Regions from separate parts of the Homo sapiens genome. Here region 2 is linked to region 1. Evidence: fine-mapped expression QTL. A gene starts in region 1. The other region holds a variant in brackets. All regions are shown on one strand. Distances are from middle to middle.

What was found. PIP is the estimated chance that this variant, and not a neighbour inherited with it, causes the effect.
Region 2: its variant is the best candidate, but not a certain one, in a credible set for the expression of CBFA2T3 in whole blood (TOPMed, PIP 0.85).

Annotation. Positions count from the first base shown.
Region 1 is chr16:88,972,928-88,982,567 of GRCh38, forward strand. CBFA2T3 (CBFA2/RUNX1 partner transcriptional co-repressor 3) reads right to left here and starts at 4,280. Exons shown (of 12, transcript NM_005187.6): 1 at 3,730-4,280. The coding sequence starts at 3,880. LOC124903756 (a long non-coding RNA gene) reads left to right here and starts at 8,136. Exons shown (of 2, transcript XR_007065183.1): 1 at 8,136-8,302; 2 at 9,029-9,359. RefSeq lists enhancers at 54-123, 304-463, 2,405-2,949, 2,602-2,811, 4,652-4,701 and a silencer at 9,245-9,447.
Region 2 is chr16:89,078,542-89,088,181 of GRCh38, forward strand. No RefSeq gene overlaps it. Among named protein-coding and RNA genes, the nearest start is that of ACSF3, 10 kb to the right of the region's middle. RefSeq lists an enhancer at 9,464-9,640. The variant T/C (reference allele first, on the strand shown) is at 3,575.

The sequences.
Region 1 (9,640 bases):
TGGGGCTGCCTGTCTGTCTGTCTGTGGCCTCAGACGTCTTGTCATGCACACACTGACCTCCCTGCCTCTGGCTGGAGCCCACAGACACCCTGGCCGAGCTCTGCATGATCCACCAGCTCCAAAGCCCAGCAGACACAGGGCCTGCGGCTGAAGGAGGAGTCGGGCTGAGACCGCCCGGCTGCTCATGTCCACTCCCCCTCCCACCGCGCCCCCTTGATGGGGCACCTCCCATAACCGGGGCTGCCTGCAGCCTCTCCAGTGCCTCCCTGTGTCCCACCGCCTGGAGTGCAGAGTGAGTGGCTGGAGCTCTGGCCTAGGGTGGGCTGGGCCTTAGAAGAAGGAGGCAGAGGAAGATTTGGGAGGGAGGAGACGGCCTTGCAAAGACAGAGGTAGTGGCTGCGGCACGGCGGCCACAGCCCAGGAACACCTGGGACCAGCAGGACCTGGAGAAGGCAGGACCTGGAGGAGCACGGCCATCTGACGCCTTAGTTTCGGACTTCCAGCCTGCGGCACTGTGAGAACAGAAGCCTCTGTTGTTCTGAGCCCCCAGCCAGCTTGCAGCCCATCCTTACTGCAGCCCCAGGAGATAGAAACACCCGGGGAGGGCAATCCAGACCCAGAACATTCCAGACCCAGAACCTTCCAATGCAGAATATTCCGGACCCAGAACATTCCAAACCCAGAACATTCCGGACCCAGAACATTCTGGACCCAGGACGTTCCAGACCCACAACATTCCAGAGGACAGCTGGGCCTGGATGGCCACTTGAGGGGATGGAGGATGGAGAGTGAGTGGTGGCAAAGCCCAGCCCCAAGGGCAAGGTCGGGTAGAGGGAGCCCAGGCTGACCGCAGGCTCTGGACGTGACCCCTTTGCCAGGTGGGCTCCAGCCAGGGCTCAAGCTTCCTGCACGGATGGTGCCTTCACAGCATCTGCCCAGTCCCCATAACATCTGCCCGCCTTGCCCGGTCCCCATAACATCTCCCGCCTTGCCCGGTCCCCATAACACCCGCCCGCCTTTGCCTGCACCCCTCCACTGATAGTGCTCACCACCTCCCCGAGATCCCACGTCGTCCCTCTAAGGTGACACCAGGCAGGCCTGACTCAGTTTCTCCCCCATGGAGGTCCCAGCACATGGCACTGAAACTTCTCTGCCTCAGCCTACACTTGCCAGGTGGATTTCAAAATCTCTGTCCCTGGCACCCTCCTCGGGTGACCTGGTTCCCATCCCTCTCTCCTGAGGCAGTCAGGTCACCTTTCTGACCTCCGCCTCTTCTTCTGCAAAGTGGGCTTGGGGGGACAAGGCGGTGAGAGCCTGCACAGCTCCGAGCACACACAGCGGGCGCCTCGTAAACCCAGCACCGCAAGCACCGTCTTCAGGGGTTCCTTCTGCACCACTGGGCCCAGGGGTCAGTGAGGATCCAGACCCTCCGCGTGAGGGGGCTGGTGAAGGAGCCCAGGGAAGGGGTCCCGGCCCCCAGACGGCGGCGTGTGCTCTGTGGCCATCTTCTGATTGCTTACACCTCAGCCCCCAGGACGCTGTCAGAGGAGACGAGGGGCTGAGGTCCTCCCACCCCCTGCACAGCACACAGACGTCTCTCCTGCCCGCCACCAAACGCGCAGCAACACAGCCCTGCTCAGTACGCCTTTGGTCTAAAGACAGGAAGGTTCTTCTACTTCAGCTTTTAGAAATATTACTGTTCTCCCCAGAGTTTAAAGCCAATCGGCCTGTTTTCAGGCCTCAAAGGTTTTAGGAACTCTTGGGAGGCCTGTGTGCCTGACAGCCACACAGTGGGGCTGAGGTGCCCTCAGGTCTGTCCAGGACCCCCCGCAGTTCCCATGCCCCCCATGGCCCCCGCTCCTCCAGCCAGGCGAGGCTTGATGCCGAGGCTTTCTGGCATCACAAGGCTCCCACATCTGTCCCCTGGGGGCCTTGGGAGGCCCCTGGGGTACAGGATGAGAAGCCCCAAGTGCTGGTATTCACATGTAACTCTGCTGCCTGATGTGGCTAAGGCTGTCCCATGGGTACCCTGGAATAGGGCCGGGTGGTTGCACGGACAGAAGCCCCTAGAAGCCAGGGGCAGGACCCCGCACCCAAGTGAGACCCTGCTCCCTCCTCACATTGCAGCCCCTAAGCAGGGGCTCCCTGGGGGTGGGCACAGTGGCTGGGTACTCTGTGTTAGAGGCCACCCTGGCCCTCTGCTCCTGACCTGCAGCCATGTCAGAGGTCCACCCTGACCCTCTCTGCTCCACATCTTTAGCCATGTCAGAGGTCCACCCTGACCCTCTGCTCCTCACCTGCAGCCATGTCAGAGGCCCGCCCTGACCCTCTGTTTCATGCCTCTAGCCAGCAGCCCCTCGCATGACTCAGGCACGGGGCCACCTCTTGGCCCTAACCTCCTTCCACGGTAGACACCCCCGTCCTTCCACAGTAGACGCCCCCATCCTAACAAAGCGGCGGCTCTCCATGCGCCTCAGAGCCCGTCTCTCTCCGCGCCGGTGAGAACCTGCTCTCACGCGGGGAGCAGGTCGGAAGGGTCTGAACCATGAGGAAACTGAGGCCCAGGGAGGAAGCACCCGGCCCAAGGCCACTCAGCGCCAGGGGATAGACAGGGCCGCTCCAGAGAGGACGGGATGGCAGATGCCAGGGCCAGTGGGCTGGTGCTGCCTTGAAGGTGGCTCTGAGTCACCCATTCGGGAGAAACGAACAGTAGCACTGGCTGTGGTGAGGTCCGGCCTTTGCATTCCGGGCACCCGGGGTTGGGAAGTTCCTGCTCACATCTGGGGCCCTTGTGGGGGATGGCCCTGGGGCCCCACGGGCAGCTGCAGGTGGGAACAGCCTCAGGCAGCCGCCGCCAGGACCTGCTCAGGGAATGTGGTCTCCAGAGATGGGGACACCCCTCGGTCCCGGGTTCTGTGTGTGAGTGTCAGGGGTGCAGTCAGACCTTGGACCTGACGGCCTCAGTGAGAGCCCCGCGAGACGGGAGACTGTGAGCTCCTGAAGGTTCCGACGGCTGCTGGGAGTGTGGCCACGAGGGCCACTGGGAATCGGGGCCACCAGCCTGCAGCTGCAGCCCCCAGCGTCCGGGGATCCTTGTCCTGGGACTTCGCAGGCTCGGGTGGGGGGTATCAGCAATAGCTGGCGTCCTGCTGGACTGGACCCCTCCCCAGAGCCCGAAGCCCCCAGAAGGGCAGGCCCAGGTTCCCCGTAAACCCCCACTGCCCTGGCTGGAATCGTTCCTCGGACAGGGGCCCAGGGTTGGGTCCATTTCCTCCTCACCGGGGTCTTGGGCCAGTGCCCTCCCCTCTGGCCTCAGTTTCCTCATCCAACCTGCTGTGAGGTGTCACACCCGGAGGGCATCCCAGGAGGAGGAGGGCTCTCTTTCTAGGACCCCCCCATCACTTCCCGGCTGCGGCCCTCCCACCCCCAGGAGAACACAGCCCACCCTCCTAGACGGGGCTGAGCAGCCCGGCCTCCAGCATCTGCCTCTGGGTGGGGCTGGGGCACCTGGCTGGCACCTGCCAAACCCTCACCAGCCCACCTGCCCCAGCTGTGCAGGACCTGCCTGTGGGGTGGCCCTGTTGATATCTGAGGTGAGTCAACACGGCCATCCGTGCCGGCACTGTCAACTAAGCTGGGCAGGCCCCGCGAAGCTCTAAGGAGTCACAGCCCCGGCACCGGCTGCCGCTCTCTGCCCCCACCCCACCACCTTCCCCTCGAGCCTCTTACCTGGGCCGCCCTTCCTGGGACCCCGGGGTGCGGAGCAGCCGGCAGATGCCAGGAGGCCGCTCTCCAGCACAGGGTGCGTCTGGGACATGGAGCCACAGGTGGATCCCGAGGCTGAACTGGCTGCCCTGTCCCTCAGTCTTGAAGCCGGCATGAGGAGGGCCACCCTCAGGGGCCAACCTGGAGCCCAGGACAGGCCTCTACCAGGACTGCCTTTCCCGACCTCCTGCAGCCTTGAGGGAAAGAGGAGGGGCTGGGCCAGCTGGGGCGTCCTGGAGTTGGGCCTCTGTCCCTGGAAAGCCGAGGCCCTCCCGGCCACCAACTGGGTGTCCTCTGCCCTGGGGAGGGGGTGGGAGCCCTGGGGCTCATGTGACGCGGGGCGGGCCTGGGGCTGCAGGCTGGGGAAGGTCTCCCTGCAGCCTGCGGGTGAGGCAGCCAGCTGTGTCCCCGTGATAATGCCGGGGCCGGAGGCCTGCAGCTGCGCCCGCCACTTCCCTGACAGGAACCATCTGGGGCCCTGCCCTGCGCGGCCTTCCCTCGGGCCATTCCGGTTTGACCTTCCAACAACTTCCTCCTCCCAGGCAGCTCTGGTGACGTCCCACCCACCCTGAGCCCTACAGCGTGGCCACTGGGCATGTGTTTCCTCGGCCCCAGGGCAGGTGTGCAGGCCTGAGGGCAGCTCCATCCTGGCCCAGAGCCCTTGGCCTGTCCCGCCCACCCATCTTCCCCCCAGGGCTTGGCCCTTCCTTCAGCCTGGGGTATCTGGGGGTGTCCTCCCTCTCCGCTAGCCCTCAGTCAGCCGAGCTTTCCCCAGCACCCCTTTTAGTTTGCCCCCGCTCCAGGGGCCACCCTGCCCGTGTTCCTGTGTCTGCTGACTGTGCCCTTGAGCAAGGCGGGGCCTCTGACCAGCCTCTCCTCAGCCCCTGCTCCGGGGTTCTTGGGCACCTGACCTGTCCTCAAAGTACCTCCCGCCTGCTGGGAAGGAAACCCTCTCTCTCTGCTTGGCCTCGTGCACAGGGCTCCTGGCCCTCTGTGGAGACAGCAGGGCTCCCCCACTCTCCGGGGGTGCCTCAGAAAGACCCTCACCCCACGCCCCAGCGGCCGCCTCCGGTGAGCAGCCTGGAGTTTGCGGGGGTCGGGGGTAGGTGGCTTCTCCAGTCTGGGAAATTCCAGAAGCCACCTCAGAGCACTCTTGGGACTACTTAGACCCTAGGGAGAGTCCTAGGACCCCTTTCTAGCGGCCGTTGGGCTGAGAGAGTGAGGCACATCCCAGATGCTGGGAAAAAAAGCCACTTTCTAAAGCTCCCTGACAACTGTCAGAGGGCAGGAGCTTCCTGGGAGGGGACAGTGACCCTTCGGCCCTGCAGCCCTGGTTCGGTGGCTTTTCTGATGCCATGGCTGGAGGTTTCCCGGCCTCAGACAGGCCAGAGGTGTGGAGCCCGCAGACCCAGGGCCGGCTCACGGGCATCTGTGCTATTTTGATTTGATTTGATTTGAGTTTTAGGTCACGTTTGCACGCAGTTAATAATTCAAGCCGTGCAGGAGTAAAAGCCGACTCCTTCCCCGCAGGGTCTCCAGGTGTCCCGGGTCTCCCTGTCCCAATAGTCGAGTGTCTTTCTCGAGTTGGTGACAACAAGCTGCATGCCAGCGTGTGTGTCCAGCTTACAGTGGGGATGTGTTTGTTCCTGCTGGGGAACTTCCCAGACGCCAGGCCCACCCGGGGCCTCCCCTGCCCTGGGTGGTCGGCCGTTCTGCCCCCAGGACTGAGGCTGGAGGGGACATTCCTGCCAGCCCGGGGCCCATCCCCTGGTGCCATCATTCGGTCCCCACGTCCCCTGCTGTTCCCTGTGCTCTGGCTCAGGGTGGGATTCACAGTGAGGGTCCTGGGGGCCCTGACCCTCCTGGTTTCCTCATTTGTGCAGGGTGCACGATCCTAACGGCGTCAGCTCCTACAGCGTTTCCGGGAGTGGAGACAGCAGAGGCTCTGAGCCGCCACATGGGCCGGGGCCACCGTGAGCATGTGGCTGGGGTTGGTCTGTGTCAGTGCCTATTCCCCAGCTGTGTGCAGTGAGAGTCTCAGAGTCGGGGAACTGAGGGTCTCAGGGGGCACAGCCCCCACTCCGTGAGGCAGCAGGACAGCACCCTGGGTGAGGGTGGTGGCTCCCCCCACCCGGGGTAGGAGACAGGCAGCCCTGCCCCCAGCCCTGAGGCAGATGTTCGAGGCCTGCACCTGCGCCCCCCACAGATGGGACACTTCCACTTTCGCAATGAGGCCCTGAGCTCCCCGCCTGGCCCCGTCTTGCCTGGTGTCTAATCAGGGGGTCTGACGGAGGTGGGGTTGGAAAGAGAAGAGAAGAAAGTTGCCCACAAGTTGGGGGCAGGAGCTGCCCCCCAACTTTGGCGGCCACCTGGGGGTGTGGGCACCACTCCCCACCTCCCCACTACCGGCCTCCTCTCCCCCAGGCCGGGCAGTTGGTGCTTGTGGGGAAGCAGACGTTGGCTGTGGCTTTCAGAGCTGGGCGGCCAGGAGATAAGGGGCTGGGGAGGAAGTGGCTGCAGAGGTGGGGGCAGCAGGAGGGGCCTCGGCTTCTCCCAGGGACCTCTGCTGTCTGCAGCCAGCACCCAGCCTCTCGGGGCAGGAGGGGCCTTTCCTTCCTTCCTAAAAGACCTATTAGGGCCTACTGGGGTTCTTTCGGTGTCCAAGACAGCCCCTGGTCCTGCTCTCTGGGAACTATAGGAGACACGTTCCATCAACATGGCCCAGCATGTGGGGCCCATAGGGCAGTTGGGGAAACTGTCCCTGGGTGGGCAGAGGGGCCCTAAGGCAGGCTTTGGTGAATCTGTAGGATGGCCAGAGAACTGGAGGAGGGTGAGGGGGCAGTGGGGGAGATGACGCCATGTGGGGGTGGGTGAGGAGGCCTTCCTTCAGGCAGGGTGTCTTATGTTTGCCTTCTCTTCTAGCATGTAGGAACCCCCCCACCCCCAACACACACACCCTTCACTGCTGGATGAATAGATGAATGAATAGATTGATGAATGAATGGGTGGGTGGGTGAGTGGATGGGTGGGTAGATGATGGGTGGATGGGTGGGTGGGTGGATGAGTGAATGGGTGGATGGATGGGTGGATAGATGGGTGAGTGGGTGGATAGATGGGTGAGTGAGTGAGTGGGTGGATGGGTGGGTGGATGGATAGATGTGTGGATGGGTGGGTGGATGGATAGATGGGTGAATGGGCGGAAAGATGGGTGAATGGGTGGATGGATGAATGGATAAATGGGTAAATGGGTGGGTGGATGGAGAGATGGGTGAATGGGTGGGTAGGTAGATGGATGGGTGTGTGGGTGAATGAATGGTGGATGGGTGTGTGGGTGGGTGGGTGGATAGATGGGTGAATGTGTGGATGGGTGGATAGACGGGTGAATGGGTGGATGAGTGGATAGATGAGTGAATGGGTGGATGGATGGATGGATGGATAAATGGGTGAATGGGTGGTGGATGGATAGATGGGTGGATGGGTGGGTAGATGGGTGAATGGGTGGATGGGTGGATAGATGGGTGAATAGGTGGAAGGATGGATGGATAAATGGGTGAATGGGTAGGTGGATGGATAGATGGGTGGATGGGTGGATGGATGGAGAGATGGGTGAATGGGTGAGTAGGCGAATGGATAGGTGGGTGGGTGAATGTGTGGATGGATGGGTGGATGGAGAGATGGGTGAATGGGTGGGTAGGTGGATGGATGGGTGTGTGGGTGAATGAATGGTGGATGGGTGTGTGGGTGGGTGGGTGGATAGATGGGTGAATGTGTGGATGGGTGGATAGACGGGTGAATGGGTGGATGAGTGGATAGATGAGTGAATGGGTGGATGGATGGATGGATGGATGGATGGATAAATGGGTGAATGGGTGGTGGATGGAGAGATGGGTGAATGGGTGAGTAGGTGAATGGATCGGTGGGTGGGTGAATGTGTGGATGGATGGGTGGATGAATGGGTGCGTGGATGGGTGGATGGATGAGTGGATCAGTGAATGGGTGGGTAGGGATGGATGGGTGGATAGACAGGTGAATGAGTGGATGGATGGATACATGGGTGGATGGGTGGATAGGTGGATGGATGGGTGGATGGGTGGGTGGATGGGTGAATGGGTGGATGGGTGGATGGATGGGTGGATGGATGGGTGGATAGATGGGTGGATGGGTGAATGGATGGATGGATGGATGGGTGAATAGATGGGTGCATGGGTGAATGGGTGGGTAGGTGGATAGATGGGTGGGTGGGTCAATGTGTGGATGGATGGGTAGAGGGGTGGGTGGATGGGTGGATGGGTGGGTGGGTGGGTGGATGGGTGGATGGGTGGGTGGGTGGATAGGTGGATCAATGAATAAGTGGTAATATGGTTTTATGTAAGTCTCATGCCAGCCCACTTTACAGAGGAGGGAGGAGGCCCACAAGGGTGCCATCCCCAGTCACAAAGCCTGGAGAGAGGAATGTAAGTCGCGAAGCCGCTCCAGAGGATGCTGAACAGTGTCATGTACGGAGGAGCCTTGCCCCGGCTTTCTGGTCCTGAATAAGGTGTGGACAGTTGGGGTGAGCCACAGAGGGAGTGGGGGCCGGGGGTGGAGGCAGGAAAAAACCTGCCCCGGGTGTTCAAGGCAGTGCAGGTGAAGCGGCTCATAGCTGGATGCTCAGCCACTCCCCAGCTCAGGGCACGGCTGAGCAAACCCAGAACCACGGAGAAGGTGCCATGGCCGGAGGGCTGGGGTGATTTGGGGAAACCTGGTACAAAGTGGTGCAGGATTCCAGGGCTCTGAGACTGCAGTTACTGGGCGCTCCTGCCACCCCCAGAAAGAGCAGGTCTACCTGGGGAGTCCGAGCCGAGGCGCAGGCCGGAGACACCCCAATGAGAGCACGGAACTGGAATCGGGGTCTTCACCTTCCCGGTGTGTGGACTCCTTGGGCATCTAGTAAGCAAATAAGTTCACAGAATTATGAAGGAAACCCATTTTACCAAAATACAGCTACCACCCCGTTAGAACATTCTGGTGTAGTGAGCACTGTGCTTTTCATTAAGCCATGATTTAAAGTGGTGAGGCGTGGGAACCGCATTAGGAGACGTGGTGGTGAGTGGAAGGCGAGGGGGGTCTTTTGTGGAGCCCTGGACCCTCCCAAGGCGTGGCTGCTTGGGGCCCACCAAAGTGGCCCTGGGGCAGCTCTATCGGTGTCAACGGCACAGGCGCGGCTGACACCCTGGGGAGGTGCCCACGTTCTTGGTTACAGGAAAGGCTAAATTTTGGTTAGAGACACGACACAATGCCAGATGAAACTCATCCAAGTCCACGGATCCCCTGAATTCCAAGGAAAGAACCGCGGTTCCAGCTTCCCTCGAAGGTGTCCCCCGGTCCCGCTCACCACCTCAGCTTCCAGGAGTCTCCGGTGGGACAGCCGGAACCCCACTGAGGGTCTCGAAGTCACAGGCCCCTGGTTCACACTCAGCATTTCCTGTCTGTGCTGGGTACGCTTGGGCAAATGTCTTGACCCGTTTCCCCAACTGTAAAGTAAGAAGGTAACAGAGTCAGCTGAATGGGGGTGTGGTGAGGATTTAATAAAACCGTCCACGTTTGGACTCTCCTATGGTGCCCGTGAAGGTGGGCAAGCACGGACGGGCAGCTGTGACCCCTGCGAGATCCCTGAGCCGTGAAGGGGCCAGCCCAGGGGGACAGTGGAATCCCCACACCGCCTTCTGGCCATGGCCGCCTCCGGGGCAGGCGCGTTGCTGCTAGAAAGCTCTTCCTAAATTGAGCTCAGGTCGGCATCCCTGCAGATGCGGCCCCTCTCCGGAAGAGTGCTTTGGAAGGGAGAAAGGGCTCTCCCAGCCCCACCGCCGCCCCCTGGAGTCAGCCACAGCCTCCT
Region 2 (9,640 bases), 110 kb after region 1:
CTGGAGTGCAATAGTGCAATCTCGGCCTCCCGGGTTCAAGTGATTTTCCTGCCTCAGCCTCCCGAGTAGCTGGGATCACAGGCATGCACCACCACGCCCGGCTAATTTTTTTTTTACTTTTAGTAGAGACAGGGTTTCTCCACGTTGGCCAGGCGGGTTTCAAACTCCTGACCTCAGGTGATCTGCCTGCCTCAGCCTCCCACAGTGCTGGGATGACAGGCGTGAGCCGGTGTGCCGGGCCCAGGGTTTCCCTTTTTCTGCAGTTTCAGTTATCCATGGTCAACAGAGCTCCAAAAATATTAAATGGAAAATTCTAAAACTAAACAATTCATAAGTTTTAAATTATGCACGGCTTGATGAACTCTGACACCTCCCGCCCTGTCCGCCCGGGAGGGGATCCTCCATTTGTCCAGCGAGTCCACGCTGTGGACGCTCCGCACCGGTGAGTCCTCCAGGAGCTGCCTCTGCTGTCAGATCAAAAACACATCGGATATGTGGGGTTCAGGCATCCCTGGGGGTCTGGGAATGTGACCCCCTTGTATACAAGATGGCTGTATGGTTTTTCTCCTCCTTAGTGTCATTTTTATGTTAAGTGTATTTTTTATGTTATTTATTTTTAAAAAGCCACCCGGTTTTATTTCCAGGGCTTCATGTCACTCCACCAAATGGATTCTGTCCCCCTCAGTGGCTCAGTCCCGTCGTCTGGGTTCCCAGCCCCAGGAACCTAGGGCCTGTGGAAAGCCAGCCTCCCCTGGAGGTGGCTCCTCCTGGACCCGTGGCCGGGGCACCCCGAGGACATTCTGTGGTGAGATGGTTTCAAGGCCTGCCTACTTGCGGGCCCACCCTCACCCCCCATTTTCTCCCCGTTTTCATCTTCGTCCTCACCTCATGTACCCTCTGTTTTTGGTGAGGCAGTGTGGATGGATGAATCCACCTTGCTCCCGAAACACCCCCAAATCTGTCCCGCCCGGGCCCTGGACTCTGGCTCCTAAAATGCCACCACTACACCCAGACATGCCACATGCTCCCCGGCACCCCTCCTCCGCCCTCCTGCAGAGCCAGGCGATGCCCGCACCAGAGATCTGTGCCAGCCGCAGGACATCTGGGAGGAGGTGCATAAACCCAACAGGGCCAAGCACAGAGGGGCGCACGTGTGACTTCCTTGGGCTGGCGGGCCCGTCTGCTGGAATACAGCGCGACTTTGCGGGAACTCCATTAGGCGGGTGCTTCTGTGTTTTCTGCTGTTCGAGGCCAGGCCTTCCCTGGCTCACGTGGGGCCTCACCATGTCCCAGGGTTCTCTCCCTTGGGAGCTGTTGCAGCTCGGACACAGGCCTCCAGCCTCTGGGTTTCTCAGAAACTCTGGGTCCCTCCCACTGGTGGCACCAGCTGGCTCACTCTCTGGGGTCTAAATGGAGGCTTGGAGACCCTGGGAACAATGCAGCCAACAGGACCTCGGCCCACACACCCAGACAATGCTGTGTCTGCCCTGATTTGGCACAAGCCATGGGGAGAGGCCACTGCTCTGATTGTGCAGGTGGTGCCTCAGGCCTGGCGCTGAGTGATGAGAGGACCTTGTGGGGCTCGGGACTGCTGGAGAAAGCAGAGGGAGGAAGGAGGGCCTGAGGAGGAGGAGTGTGGTGGGAAGAGGGAGGATCTGGAAAGGTTTCTAGGCTCCAGGAAAAGCGTCCCCACCATAGGTCCCAGAAGGCGGCAGCCAGGCCTCCCCTCGCAGCTGCTGTGCAGAGCTGGCATCTGTGCCCGCCGCTCCACATGTAGAAGCCAGACCCTGGGAGCCGGGTCTGTGCCAAGCCAGTGCCAGCTGCCGGGACACATGTGTCTGGCACTTGGACAACTCCGCCCAGCGAGGCCTGTGCGTCTCTTTCCTTGTGGGGAGAGCGTGTCATGTCCAGGCCTGGGGTCACCACATGCCCATGCCTGGCATTCTTTCCATCTGGGCTCACCCCCATCGTGCCCATGATCTGGGCCCGCCCCCATCGTGCCCATGTCCAGCGCGTGGCTGCCATTGTGCCTGTGTCCAGCACATGGCCCCATCGTGCCGATGTCCAGCACATGGCCCTCATCGTGCCCATGATCTGGGCCCGCCCCCCTCGTGCCCGTGTCCAGCGCGTGGCCCCCATCGTGCCCGTGTCCAGTGTGTGGCCCCAACAGTCAGCGTTGTTGACGTCACCTTCTGGGAGGGAGGTCGGCCTCGGGGCCAATGGCCCGGAGCTTGTGTGTATGGCTCTGTGTGCGTGTGCAATGCACTCAGCATCTAAGCTACGGTCAGGCCCTCTGGAGGCTCCTGCAAACTTTGAGGGCCTGCCCAGAACTCTCTCCAAGCCCAGGTGGGGCAAACGCTTCCAGGTCAAATGCCAAAATTCCTGTCCCCATGACATGGGCCTTAGGCAGTAAAGGAAGACGCAGGGGTGGAAGAGAGTGCAAAGACGCACACGAACATCCATGACCTGCACACATACGCACCATGCTCACGTACATGCACACGCGTGTCAGGGAGCACGACTGGGGCAAGGCAAGCGTTCTGGGTGGTTTGGGGTGTTTGACTGTTTATGTTTATCTGGGTTTTTCCATCTGTCTTCTTTACAGTGAGTATATTACTTGTAATAATTTAAAGTTTTAAAAATGCAATTGTCCAAAATGAGGACTGTGGAGGAGCAGGTGGGAGGGCAGCCTCCTGCCCACGGAGAACTGGCCTGGATCCAGCCTCCTAGAGACGAGGGAAAATGAAGCCACAAGGAACTTCTCTGGGCTTTGGGGCATCAGCAGCTGTTTTCTGGCCCCATGGGGCACAGACGTGGTCAGAGGGGCACACGGGTAATGCACGGATGTGGTCGGGGGGCACACGGGTGAGGCGTGGACATGGTCAGTGGACGGGGCTTGGCGTGAGCTCCTGGAGTTAGAGGGCTTCAGTTGGACCCCACTTACTTTCACAGCAAGACCCTGGGCACTGGAAGATGCGCTCCCTACCCATGACTTTGAGTGGCCCAATGGGCAGAGCCTGGTCTCCTCCAGAGGGTGCACTCTGCCCTCCTGCCAGCCCCTCGCTGTCTCTGCCCACTGCTGACCCTTCTTTTCTTACTTCTCCCCCCAGGAGGCTCTGGATCGTGGGGCCCTGCTTCTGTCGCAACACATCTGCCACCCCTCGTGGATCCTGTGGCCACCCGCTCAGTATCTCCCGGCCTCGTCCACCTCCGTCTCCCAGAGCCATGGTCCTGGCTCTGCATGGCCCCAGCGGCACCCGACGTCCTCTGCCTCTGCCTCCAGGTCGGCATCTTCATGAGCCATGGCCTTGTCTCCAGCTCTGCCCTGCAACCTGCAGCTGCTCCCTGTGGCCCCAGAGCAACTGTTCTCGTGGGGTCTCAGGGCTCTTTCCCAGTCTTAGAGATCATTCAGTTCATATGTGGGAGCTGGAAAACAGTGGAACTTATGGAGATGGAGACTAGAATGATGGAGATATTCCCAGAGGCTGGGAAGGGCGGTGGGGAGTAGGGGGGTGGTGAGGGGATGGTTAATAGGTACAAACATAATTACATGGAAGGAATAAGATCAGATATT[T/C]GGTAGCACAATAGGGTGACTATTGTTAACAAGAATTTATTGCATATTTTAAAATAACTGAAAAGTGGACTGGAATGCTCCTAACACAAAGAAATGATAAAGGCTCGAGGTGACAGTGGCCCCGATTACCCTGGTGTGATCAACACGTCACGTGTTCCCCATAGACACAGATAATTATGTACCCATAGGCATTAAACATTTTATTTTTTTTAATTTTTATTTGTTTTGAGACAGAGTTTCACGCTTTTTGCACAGGCTGGAGTGCAGTGGCGTGATCTTGGCTCACTACAACCTCCACCTCCCAGGTTCAAGTGACTCTCCTGCCTCAGCCTCCCGAGTAGCTGGTATTACAGGCATCCACCACCACGCCCGGCTAATTTTGTAATTTTAGTAGAAATTACACCTTGTTGGCCAGGCTGGTCTTGAACTCCTGACCTCAGGTGATCTGCCCACCTCAGCCTCCCAACGTGCTGAGATTACAGGCGTGAGCCACCGCGCCCGGCTAGAATTAAAGATTTTAAAAGTCATTCAGGACCCCAAGAGCTTCTGTTTATGTCGGTAATGGTTATTGATACTTACCAAATTCAAAAGAAATTGGAGAACATTTAAAAATATTTATCTAAAAATATTTATCAAGTCAATAGTAACCACAATAAACTCACTGAATGTTAACATAAACAACACGTTTTGTTGGTTTTTTTTTTTTTTTTTTGAGACGGAGTCTCGCTCTATCACCCAGGCTGGAGTGCAGTGGTGCGATCTCGGCTCACTGCAAGCTCCGCCTCCCTGGTTCACGCCATTCTCCTGCCTCAGCCTCCTGAGTAGCTGCGACTACAGGTGTCCGCCACCGCGCCCAGCTAATTTTTTGTATTTTTAGTAGAGACAGGGTTTCACTGTGTTAGCCAGGATGGTCTCGATCTCCTGACCTCTTGATCTGCCCGTCTCAGCCTCCCAAAGTGCTGGGATTACAGATGTGAGCCACCGCACCCGGCCAACGACATCTTTTATGAAGATATCTATAAATTCCAAAACAAAACAACTCTGGAAACTAGGGCATGATTTTATGTGTCCGCTGTCACTGTAACACTTGGCTGCGTGGGCCAGAGGGGAACCTGTGTGCCTCCATATCCAGTCTACTGTGATATGTTGTTTTGATTGAACTATATGAAGAAAATCTGGCCTCACACCGATAATGTATAGTGGAGTACTGTAACAGCCTCTTTCCCCGGGGGAGGGGTACCGCAACAGCCTCTTCCCTCCCGGGGGAGGGGTACCGCAACAGCCTCTTCTCCCCCGGGGGAGGGGTACCGCAACAGCCTCTTCTCCCCCGGGGAGGGGTACCGCAACAGCCTCTTTCCCCAGGGGAGGGGTACCGCAACAGCCTCTTCTCCCCCGGGGGAGGGGTACCGCAACAGCCTCTTCTCCCCCGGGGAGGGGTACCGCAACAGCCTCTTTCCCCAGGGGAGGGGTACCGCAACAGCCTCTTCCCCCGGGGGAGGGGTACCGCAACAGCCTCTTCCCCCCGGGGGAGGGGTACCGCAACAGCCTCTTCCCCCCGGGGGAGGGGTACCGCAACAGCCTCTTCCCCCGGGGGAGGGGTACCGCAACAGCCTCTTTCCCCCGGGGGAGGGGTACCGCAACAGCCTCTTCTCCCCCGGGGGAGGGGTACCGCAACAGCCTCTTCCCCCGGGGGAGGGGTACCGCAACAGCCTCTTCCCCCCGGGGGAGGGGTACCGCAACAGCCTCTTCCCCCCGGGGGAGGGGTACCGCAACAGCCTCTTCCCCCCGGGGGAGGGGTACCGCAACAGCCTCTTCCCCCGGGGGAGGGGTACCGCAACAGCCTCTTCCCCCGGGGGAGGGGTACCGCAACAGCCTCTTTCCCCCGGGGGAGGGGTACCGCAACAGCCTCTTCTCCCCCGGGGGAGGGGTACCGCAACAGCCTCTTCCCCCGGGGGAGGGGTACCGCAACAGCCTCTTTCCCCGGGGGAGGGGTACCGCAACAGCCTCTTCCCCCCGGGGGAGGGGTACCGCAACAGCCTCTTCCCCCCGGGGGAGGGGTACCGCAACAGCCTCTTCCCCCGGGGGAGGGGTACCGCAACAGCCTCTTCCCCCGGGGGAGGGGTACCGCAACAGCCTCTTTCCCCCGGGGGAGGGGTACCGCAACAGCCTCTTCTCCCCCGGGGGAGGGGTACCGCAACAGCCTCTTCCCCCGGGGGAGGGGTACCGCAACAGCCTCTTTCCCCGGGGGAGGGGTACCGCAACAGCCTCTTTCCCCGGGGGAGGGGTACCGCAACAGCCTCTTCCCCCGGGGGAGGGGTATTGTAACAGCCTTTTCTCCCGGGGGAGGGGTATTGTAATTTTGCCTTTTCAGTAACCATGGGAATTCTTTGACACCAAAACTGGAAGAGTGCCACTTTTTTAAAGGTTTGCTGAACCGTGGTGTCTAAAACCAAATCTGAGCTTTCCCTGCTGCACGTTAAAGCTGTTCTCTTTTGCACTCTGAACCGGTCTTTTACCACCACACGTGATTCCGCCACACCCCACATCGGTCATGTGAGAAACGTGGGTTCACTGAGCTGCGTGTGCACACACTGACGGGTTGTGTTGTGTAAAAATTCACATGAATTAATAACGATCACTGATATCAGCAAATTCTGTAAGTATTGGGCAGCTGTTGAGTTCACAGAGGTGAACATGCTTATCTCAGTCTCTTAACTTTTTCTTGAAAGTCAAATCGTACCACAGGAGGACAAATACATTTGGCTGTTTTTCTGGAACTGTCAGGCTCACTCCGTTCTGCCAAACACCCGAGTCTGGGTCGCTGTCCTCCATCTGTCTGTGGTTCTTTCCAGTCAAAATGGCCATGAACAGCAGCTGATTCTGACAGGGGCTTGGGCCTTACCCAGGACAAGCCTCGTGCCTCCGAACGCAGCAGCAGTGGGTGGCGTGTGCCGCCCGTGATGGGATTTGACGTGAACAGCCTTGTTGCTGCTCCATCAAGGGCATTCTTAGGTGGAGCTGGCCCTCCCCCGACTGCGGGCTGAGGACACAGCCCCTGGGGGTGGCCGTTTGGGGCCGCAGCCTCACAGGGTGAAGGCAGCAGCGGTGTTACCCACATGTCTTCTGTACAGTCTGTGCAAATGTCAACACACAGGAAACACGGGCAGCATCTTCATATCATTATGAAAATACTTTTGAACTCATGGAGCCGGGAAAGGGCCCTGGGGCCCCTGGGGCGTGGGCAGCACTCGAGATGCGTTGGCAGAGGACAGAGCTCACAGCCCCTGTCCAGCTCCACGCCTTCCCGATGGAGCAGACGGGGACCCCACGCCATGCCATGCCCTGATGCCATCACATGCCCTGATGCCAGCCTGGCATCAGGAAGCTGGCACAGCTTCCACAGCTGTGATGCAGCGTCCACCTGTCTCAAACTTGCCCCTCCTGTGCCTGGACCGGGCGCTGCCCCTGCCCCTCCCTTGCTGCCTCTAGGGAGCCCCCTCACCATCGCCTCGGCCTCACGGCTCCACGCTCACTCACTCTGAACCGCATTGTAGGGTGCTGGTTTGAACCCCAGCTGGGTGGAACGGTCCTTGAGTGGTGTCCCCTTATGCCTCCTCACTTCCTCACTGACGAAGCAGATTACTTGGCTGGTTGTTCACTGGACTCCCTCCCTCCTCCCACCCCACCTTTAGGCACCTTCACCTGTAACAAAATCCAAACTAAAAGCAACCACAGCAATAAGGAAGATGTCTTGACTCAGAAGTGCGGAGGCGGCTTCAGATAAAGTGAGTGTGGATCACACAGCTGAGGATCACACGGGCTCCATCTGCCTGTCGTCCTCACGGCTACAGGAGGGCTGCAGTGACTCCAGACATCACACACGACACTGTGGTCACCGGGGAAAATGGGCTGTTTCTCCCGAGGCATCTCTTGTTTTGTGGTGAAACAAACCTTCTTGGATTTGTCCTCACCTTCATGGGCAGGGTCTCTGAAAAAGCAAAGCCATCACTGAGCCTCAACCACTCAGCACTCGCCTTCTGGGGCCCACCTCCCCATAGCCCCTTACTCAGGGCCGATGGGAATGGGAACCGGATCAGGGTCCGAAGAGAGGAAGGAGGACTGGTGACTGTTGAACGGGTGCCGTCAGCTCCTGCCGTGGCTCGATTCCCGCCTTCGTGGAGTATGTGGGTCCGACAGCAGCAGCATCTCTGCCAACAGCTCTTCCAATGTGAGTCAGTCTGTGCCATATCTGATCCTGCGAGAATCCGTGAGCTGACGCATCAGGGTGATCAGATTCAAGAGTAAGAAGACTCTTGCTTATCCATGTCTCCGGCAGCCCCTGCACGCCTACCACAGGCCAGGTATCCCGCAAGAATCAGAATGGCCTTGCCACATGGTGCCACAGCCTCGAAGCTCCCTGCTCCAGCCTGCCACAGCTGACACAGAACCCTCCAGAGGCTCCTGAGCTCCCTCCATCTAGGTTCCAGACCCCTTAACTCCAGCACCTCCTGGCCTGATCCATTCACCTGCACAGCTGCCCACCCATCGTACATTTGGGCCCCAGCTCCAACTGAGTATGAATGGCCTTCAGCAAGCTCCGGCCTTTCAGCCTCCACACCTTTGTCCATGCTGTCCCCTCTCTGAGGACACTGGTCCTCTATCGCCCCAGGCCCAAATCCTGCCTCTCTTTCAAAGGCCAATTCACATGTTACTTTTCCCACAAAGCATTCCTGAGCCCACCGGGTTGAACTAAGATCATCTTGAACTCTTCCCATTTTGCAATATAGATATTTTATGACAGCGATGATAACTATTTATTGAGCCCAGCCTGGCCAACATGGTGAAACCTCTGTCTCTACCAAAAATACAAAACTTAGCTGGGTGTGCTGGTGGATGCCTGTAGTCCCACCTACCTGGGAGGTTGAGGCAGGAGAATCGCTTGAACCTGGGAGGTGGAGATTACAGTGAGCCGAGATTGTGCCATTGCACTCCACCTCGGGTGACAGTGGGACTCCATCTCAAAAATAAATATTTACTGAACAAATGTTCCGTAAATTCCAGGCACTGTCCAGGCACATTCCAGGCACTGTCCTAGGAATGTTACCTGGAATATCTTATATAATTTTTTTTAGATAGGGTCTTACTCTGTCACCCAGGCTGGAGTGCAGTGGCACAATCACAGCTCACTGCAACCTCAAACTCCCAGGTTCAGGTGATCCTCCTACCTCGGCCTCCTGAGTAGCTGGGACTACAGGCACGCACCATCATGTCTGGCTACTTTTTTTTGGATTTTTTGTAGAGATGGGGTCTCATTATGTTGCCCAAGCTGGTCTCAAACTCCTGGGCTCAAGTGATCTGCCCACCTCAGCCTCTTAAAGTGCTGGGATCACAGGCATGAGCCATCATGCCCGGCCCTTATTTAATTTTTATAACATCCATTAGCAGCAGGTGCTCTTATCTTCAGGTGAGGAACTGAGGCTCAGAGAGATGAGTTTCCCAGTATCATGCAGCTACTAACTGGCTGAGGCAGTGTATTCGTTCTCTATTGCTGTCTTCAAATTACCGCGAAACCTAGTGGCTTAAACAATGAACATCTATTATGTCACAGTTTCTGTAAATGTGGAATCCAGAAGCAGCCTGGCTGGGTGGCTCTGGCTCGGGGTCTCTCCTGAGGTTGCAACCACAGTGTTGTGGGGCTGCAGCCTCATCTGAAGCTTGACCGGAGCTGAAAGAGCTGCTTCTGAAGCGGCGTCTGCTCTTCACCATGTAGGCCTCTCCACACGCCTGCTTGAGTGACCTCATGATACAGCAGCCACCTCCCTGAGTGTGTGGTACAAGAGGCAGCAAGAAGGAAGCTGAACCACCCCCCGAGAAGTCACACACAGCCATCCCTTCAGCCTCCTGTTGCCGACACAGGGCAGCCTCATTCAGTACGGGACAGACACCAGGAGGCAGGGTCCCCCAGGGCCATCCTGGAGGCCAGCAGCCACGGGCAGGGTCAACCTAGACTCGCCTGACCCCATCGCGGGGCCCTGGGCCTCCACCTTGAGTGGCTGCTGACGAGCA